Linked DNA regions of Homo sapiens. The protein of the gene in region 1 interacts with the protein of each later gene in a biochemical or structural test. Each region holds a gene or a part of one and is shown in the gene's direction. Other genes may lie near its edges. The genes, in order: SLC9A2 and RASA1.

Evidence for each region.
Region 2: the proteins of SLC9A2 (region 1) and RASA1 form a complex in vitro, tested with the Homo sapiens proteins (one study listed by BioGRID).

The regions. Positions count from the first base shown.
Region 1 is NC_000002.12:102,699,375-102,703,207, forward strand, and holds part of SLC9A2 (sodium/hydrogen exchanger 2 precursor), read left to right. Parts: intron 1-1,695; coding exon 1,696-1,857; intron 1,858-3,031; coding exon 3,032-3,128; exon of another isoform or gene 3,129-3,353; intron 3,354-3,833.
Region 2 is NC_000005.10:87,368,584-87,372,416, forward strand, and holds part of RASA1 (ras GTPase-activating protein 1), read left to right. Parts: intron 1-1,229; coding exon 1,230-1,317; intron 1,318-3,534; coding exon 3,535-3,612; intron 3,613-3,833. UniProt on the Homo sapiens protein: Inhibitory regulator of the Ras-cyclic AMP pathway. Stimulates the GTPase of normal but not oncogenic Ras p21; this stimulation may be further increased in the presence of NCK1.

The DNA.
Region 1 (3,833 bases):
AGATCCAGATTGTGTAGGAAGTCACAGACCATTGTACTTGTACCCAAGGAAGATGCAGGACAGTTACATCATTAGACATATTTTTAACGGGAGCACTTGGGCTTCTGTAGGAATGCAATGGTGGAAGCAGGAATGCCAATTTGGTGCTCACTACAAGAATCCGAGAGAGAATGATGTCTTGGACCTGGGTGATAGCATTAGATGAGGTGGGAGATGGCTGGATTTTGTATGTATTTTGATGTGGAACCAACAGAAATTGCTGATGGCGCAAAGATTTGGAGTACTAGTCTGCTAGGGCTGCCATAACCAAAGTACCACAGATTGAGTGGCTCAACAGAAATGAATTGTCTCATAATCCTGGGGGCTAGAAGTCAGACAGCAAGGTGTCAGCAGGGCTCATTTCTTCTGAGGGCCACGAGGGAAGGTTCTGTTCTACGCCCCTCTGCTTGGCTTGTAGATGGCTGTCTTCTCCCTGCCTCTTCACATCATCTTCCCTCTCTCTGTATGTTTTGGAATCCAAACCTCTTCTTTTTATAAGTACACCAGTCATTTTGGATTTGGGCCCATTTTGATGGCCTCAACTTAATCACTTCTGTAAACACTAGATCTTCAAATGTGGTCATAGTCTGAGCTACTGGGGATTAGACTTTAACATATGAATTTTTGGCGGGACACAATTCAGCCCATAACATAGAACATGAGAAAAGTAGAAGAATCCAGGATGACACCAGGATTTTTGACCTGGTGGAGTCATCGTTTGCTGAGATGGGAGGACTCTGGCAGAATATCAGTTCAGTTTGAATATGTTAAATTTGGGATGCCCCATAGATATCCAACTGCAGATGTTGAGTAAGTAGCCAAAAGCTCATATCTGGGGTTTGGCCGAGAGGTTGGAGCTGGAGATACAAATCTGGGGGTCATTGGCATAGAGATGCTATTAAAAGCTAGGAGACTGGGCAAGATGGTGACGGGAGTGAGTGGCGGTATGAAAGAGGATTAAGAACCGAGGCCCAGAGCACTCCTACATTAACAGGTCAAAAGAAGAAAACAAAACTGAGAGGGAGGGTGAGAAGGAGGTTGGGGTACCCCAGGGTGGTGTCCTGGAAGCCAAATGAAGACAATAGTTTACACAAGTGAGGGCAGGAAAGATGAGGATTCATAATTGCCCACTGCAGTTATATCATGAGGTTCACAGACCACTTTGATAAGAGTAGCTTTAATGGAGTATTGAGGCAATGTGAATGTTCAAGAGAGAATCAGAGGAGAGGAATTGGGGAAAACAAACAGTGATAACGTTTCTGAGCAATTTCGCTAAAAGCAGAAGTAGAGAAATGGTAAAGACAGAAACATGTATTTTAATCTGTAATTAATGAATACTAGATTTATGTGCATCAGGGTCATATACAAAAATGTAGCAGTATGTGTCATATATACATATATGTGTATGTGTATGTATATATACATATGTATACATACACATACATATACATACGCATACACATATATACATATATACACATACACATATACATATATACAGGTAGGCACATACTAAATATATAAAATGACCAGATTAGCTAAATGCTGCTACTAAGTATTTTCCTGGGAATGGCAGAAATGACTTCATTGGTAAAAACAACAACTATTTTCTTAGTCAATCCAGTATTAATTTATTGAAAGTTTCTTTATTTACAGGTTTAAGAAGTTTGATGATAAATATCTGCGGAAGCTTTTGATTCGGGAAAACCAACCAAAGTCAAGTATTGTATCTTTATATAAAAAGCTTGAAATAAAACATGCCATTGAGATGGCAGAGACTGGGATGATAAGTACTGTCCCTACATTTGCATCTCTAAAGTAAGTATGGTCTTGCAAATAAAAGTTAGTATTGTTAAATAGGCATTGATAGTATTTTGAAACTGGTAATAATAATTTTAAAAAAATTATTATTAATTGATCCGCCCCCCTCGGCCTCCCAGAGTGCTGGGATTACAGGCATGAGCCACTGTGCCCAGCTGCAAATACTGAATCATTTTTCTATGGGGACATAAAGGTTAGGTTCCTTTGAGCCTGTGGTCACAAAATTTTCATCAGCCAATCAATATGTAACCTATTTTATGTATGTTTATGTTTACAGACACCTTATTTAATATATATTGCTAATTCATTAACATTGAATTGATGGTCAAGAACACTATAAATTCATGTATGATCAAGCTTAGTTAACAAATTTTCTCCATAAGGCACATCACAGGGTTCTTGTGCTTGGGAACTCTAGACAGCACTTCAGCAATGCCTGGGGGCCATTTAAAGCAGCAGAACCACCAATAAATAACATAAAAATATTAAAAAATCATGTCACTAAATAGACTGTGAGAAGGACATTATTTATAGTATGAGAGTGGAAACAAGAAAGCAGATGTCTCCTTGTTCAACATCTTCAGGGAAACTGTGTCAAGTGACTCAAATTTTTTGTCACTCTCCATATGTCTGAGAATAACTGCAAAAATACTGAAATTCTGATATTGGGTTTATAAATCAATATTAGCAAGTAGGTGAGGTGAGTTCATGATTATGGAACCCACAAATGAGGATTGACTGGATATACATACATGTTATAAATGGTGTGTTTGCAAATATTTATGATGAGGTTTTTAAAATATGAAAACTTAATGGTAAATTGAAGTCAATTAGGTTTCTGTTGGAGAAAACTATTCTATTTTACTTTATTTATGGAGTGTTAGAAATAATAAAGTGAGGTAGCATTATAAGCCATTGTAGTTTTTCTTCCCTGAAAACATAATGACATGAATAGATTCTGAAAACTTGTGAATTGTTAAACTTGCCATGAATGATTTTGAAACTGAAATAAGAGTCACAGAATTTGGAATTATTTTAAGTTATTGAATAATCCCTAAGTGCTATTTTTACAAATTAAGACTTGTCTTAAATACTTATATCTCTAAGGAAGAAAATCAATGATTCTAATATTTGTTGAAAGGTAAAATATTCTTTTTCTAAACTTTCACAGTGATTGTCGTGAAGAAAAAATAAGGAAGGTCACGTCCAGTGAAACTGATGAAATTCGAGAACTCTTATCAAGAAATCTCTATCAAATCCGTCAGCGAGTAAGAATAATTTATGTAGCAAAATATTTACTTACCTTTGGCTAACAGGATGCCTTCTGGTTTTGTGCTGTAACTGGAGGCTGCATCTTGACACTGGGCTCAGCAGGTCCCATGCTGGGCATCTTCTCTCCTTCTGCTTCTCTCCATCCCTCTTCAGGGTCCTACTATCCTCCTGGACACCATGGCTGAAGCCTTGGGGTCCCCTGGGAGTTCTGCTGCTGTGGGCTTGGATACAAAGAAATACACGTTGACTAATTTTAAAGAAATGAATTGATTGCTGTTTGTTTTAAAGAAATAGTTTTATAGCTTAGACTTTAAAAATGGACCTCACCCTCCTTGTTATTTATAAAGTGCTATAGTTTCTTCTCTTCTGAGCCACTTCTTTCACTTCGTTTCCATTGTTAGCACCTTATTCTAATAATTTGCTAACAACACAGCTACAGAGTAGAGAGTGTCCTCAATTTTCCAAGCCCCATTTCAGTGTGTTGCATGCATTAACTCATTTAATCCTCCAGTGAGTGGTAGGTGTTACTGTTGTCGCCATTTCACAGATAAAGAAATTGAGGCACAGGGAGGTGAAGTGGCACACGGGCCACACAGCTTGTCAGGAGTCCTCCTTGCTCATGTGGGGGCTGTTTCAGCAGCTTCTTAGCTGGTGTCCCCATAAGGTGTCCCCATTTCATCCACGTGACTCTTACCTGACCC
Region 2 (3,833 bases), on another chromosome or scaffold:
TAAAGGCTGTTCTATTTCTGGTTTGCCCTTATCATGAAGGCACAGCCCTTCAGGGGTCTCAATGGAAAGCCTGAAATTCATTCTTTTTTCTCCTAGCACTATCAAACTACTGGATTTGTAGTTAATTTTTTAGCCTTTTAGGAACTATTTTCTGCTTAGCGTCTCAGCTACACAGCCAGCTTAGGAACTGGCAACTGCCTTGAACGGAAAAGATGTGGAGAATGTCGGGTTAATTATAGTATGATCTTGGCTCCTCAAATCTTAGCTGCTTTGGTTGTTCTCCAGTGCTTTCAAACAGTTGTTTTTCTGTTTTGTATTACTATTTTAAGTTTTATCCAACTAGGGTGGTTAGTCTGATACAGGCAACATTTAGGATTAGAAGTTTCCAATTCCTATTTTCCATGATTACTTTTAAGACATTCTCAAAGCATGAAAATATAGTCTTTATCTTTAATAAGTGTTAAGCTTGTCCTCTGTGTATTTTTGCTATGGCCTCCTAACATTAGCATGATATAAAATCTTTAAAGCAGGAAACAGAAGTAACATTTATTGAGTTCCAAAAACATGCAGGCCCTTAATAAAGATTTTACCAATATTTTCAAGTCTAGTTGGAAAGATAGCACATTTCCAAAATGATATAAATTATTACCTAATATTGTACTTACATATCAAATGATTTGAAATAATACTAAAGGAAGACAAGAACATTTGTTGTACACAACTGTTCACTTAAACTCTAGAACAAGCATATGTATGAAGAGATGATGTTTCCATTTTAACAGGTGAAGAAAAATGATCAGTTTAGAAAAATTTGAAAATACAGAATCACCTACAATCTCCTTAGAGATAATTACTTAGAACATTTTTGGTCTAAGAACATTTCTAGTCTTTTTCCAGTGCATATAAAGCTTTTCAAATTAGCTGTGTGCAGTTCTAGCAGTTCAGCTTCAATCTGTTTGTAACTTTATTTCTAATGTATTTTACAATTAATTGAAATTTCTTTAGTTTACACTTTGAAATACTGATAACATTTTAATAGTGCTGACATAAAGTTTTCTAAAATATATATAGCTGACTTTTTTTTAGTAATGATCTGGTACAATGGAGTATTATTTCTTTAAGAATTATAATTTTATGTTAATTATTTATTGTGAGTGTTTTGGAAGCTGGTATAAATATTTTGCTACTTTTTATTAAGCTTCCTAATAATTTTTGTTTTTATTTTAAAGGCCAAACTGTTTTCAGATAGTAGTTCAGCACTTTAGTGAAGAACATTACATCTTTTACTTTGCAGGAGAAACTCCAGAACAAGCAGAGGTAAGATTACTGTTTCTCAAACTACAGTATACTTTTATGTTAGCCCATGTTTTCTTATTAACTGGAATAGAAAATGATCGCATTCAAGATAAAGTGACAGAACGCCTGAAATCTAATCATCTCTTATTTTAAGGAATGAGATTTCATATGTAAAAAGTTTTCTGAAAGAAATGCAAAAACAAACACAGTGAAGGGTTATTAGGAATGAAAACTCCATTTTAAATTGACCTTTAAATACTCTATGATGTTGAGGCCAACTGAGAATGCTCATTTAAAATCCTCTCTGCATAAAGGTTATAGGTCATCTCAGTATAATCCAAAGGTAAGCCAGTTAACCAGTTAGTTTTGCTAACAAGCATTATTCTTCACTGGTTGAACTCCATGTCTGAAAATAAAAGTCAGTCAACACAAGGAAAGATATTTTAGGAATCTATTCTCTAAGCCAAGTCGAGATATAATGTCTACTTTAGATTAGCTATTAATCCATGTGCAGTGTCCTTCTTATAGCGTCTATTAAGTAATTGTGTGAAGAAATAATATTTTTTAAAAAACACTCTTTAAAAAATATTTTGCAACAAAGGGAGAACCCACCTCTATAACAAAAGTAAAAAATTAGCTAGGTGTTCTGGCTTATGCCTGTAGTCCCAGCCACTGGGTAGAATGAGGCAGGAAGATTGCATTAGCACAGGAGTTTGAGTTACAGTGAGTAAGATCGAGACACTGTAAGCCAGCCTAGGCAACAAACTGAGACACTGTCTCTTAAAAAATTTTTTTGCTTTCTTTGAACCCTAATATTTCTGGAGTATATGGTTGTATTTTATACAAATACAGCTAAATTTCTGCTTATATTCTAACGAAGGAACTTAAAGGTGGTTAAGAAGTGAAAGTGGCTTTGTTGGAAATATAATTTGCCAACCCTAGATATGAGGAAGATGCTCTTAAAACTAGATCCTAGCGTGAGACTCACAGAATAAACCTGAATGAGCTTACAACTGAACGTCATATTTCACATCTTTATCAAATATCTCATTTAATGCTCATTTCACATGTAATGCACATAAAATTTTACGGCTATGTATCCCTAATTTTTAGATGAGAAAGGTAGTGCTCAAAACATTTTGGTAACTTACATGATTTTTTTAAATGTTAGAAATTGAGTTAGAAATTTAAACTTCAGTATCCTATTTTCTAAGTATTTTACCATGGTCCCTCTTTCTGAATAAAATGTCACATACCATAATGACATTTCAGCATGTTTTGCAAGCCTAACATAGAACATTTTTTAATGTATTTATACATAATATTTCTGTATTTCCATAAATGGTATTTCCAGTTTTTGTTGATTTATTGGGCTGTGGGGGTCTCTGGTTATTCTCTTCTATTTCAAAAAGCTATGGTAACTGATTTGGTTTTAATTTGCTGTAATATAAAGACAGTCTCTAGATATTAATAAAGTTCAGCTTCATTGAAATAGCCAACAAACTAAAGACATAATTGAATAAAGCAATAGTACACAGCTTTCCAGAAATATGTAAAAACCAAAGTGAATATTTAGATTTGTTTTTAATAAACCTTAGTTCTCTCCTTTTCCCCAAAGCACTAGATAAACATTTTAAAAATATGGCTGCAATTTGATTTGAATATTAGGCTAAAATGATTTTTAAAATCTAATGTTATATTTGAGAAGCTTAAAAATAACCCAAATCCCCTTATACATTTCTACCTGTATCATGGTCTAAAGTATAGATTAATATGCTTGTCATGGGATCGGTCATCACATTATCAGTTGGTTTTACAATCAGCACTCTCCCCCTCTCACAAAGTGTATCAAGTTAAATTCCACCTAAGCTTGCCTCAAGTATAACAGCTTAATTATACAGTTAATTTCCCCAAGGTAGTATCTGTTTGGGAGAAATAGTTTCTTTAATGTAAATTTGATTTTTTGGCTAATTAATGGCCACTCGATGTGTTTCATACATAAATTCAAACAAAGATTTATACAGAATTACAATTGTTTTGGTTGTTTTATTATTGTTATTGTTATGTTATTGTTATTTTATTATTGGTTATTGTTATGAAGTACAGTATAGTCTGAGAATAGAAATGGCAGTCTAGAGAAGGAAAAAATTGTTGAATTTGAAAAAAAAAACCTAACTGATGATTTGGAAGCCAAATAAACTAGTGTATATTTCTTTGAAGTGCTGTTTTTCTTTGCAGGATTGGATGAAAGGTCTGCAGGCATTTTGCAATTTACGGAAAAGTAGTCCAGGGACATCCAATAAACGCCTTCGTCAGGTGAAGCTTAATTTTCTTGGATTTTTAATTGTCACATTTTGCTCTAACACTTTGCTCTTTTTATTTTATTTTTATCTGAACTGTTTTGGACATCATATGGGGTTAAGCCATGCTGCCACTTGCTTCAGTAGCAGGAAAACGTTACTTCTTTATGAAAGAGAATGTTCTTTCTTAGTCCATGCCAACTGTTAAAAACATAAGAAAGATTATTCTTCCACTTT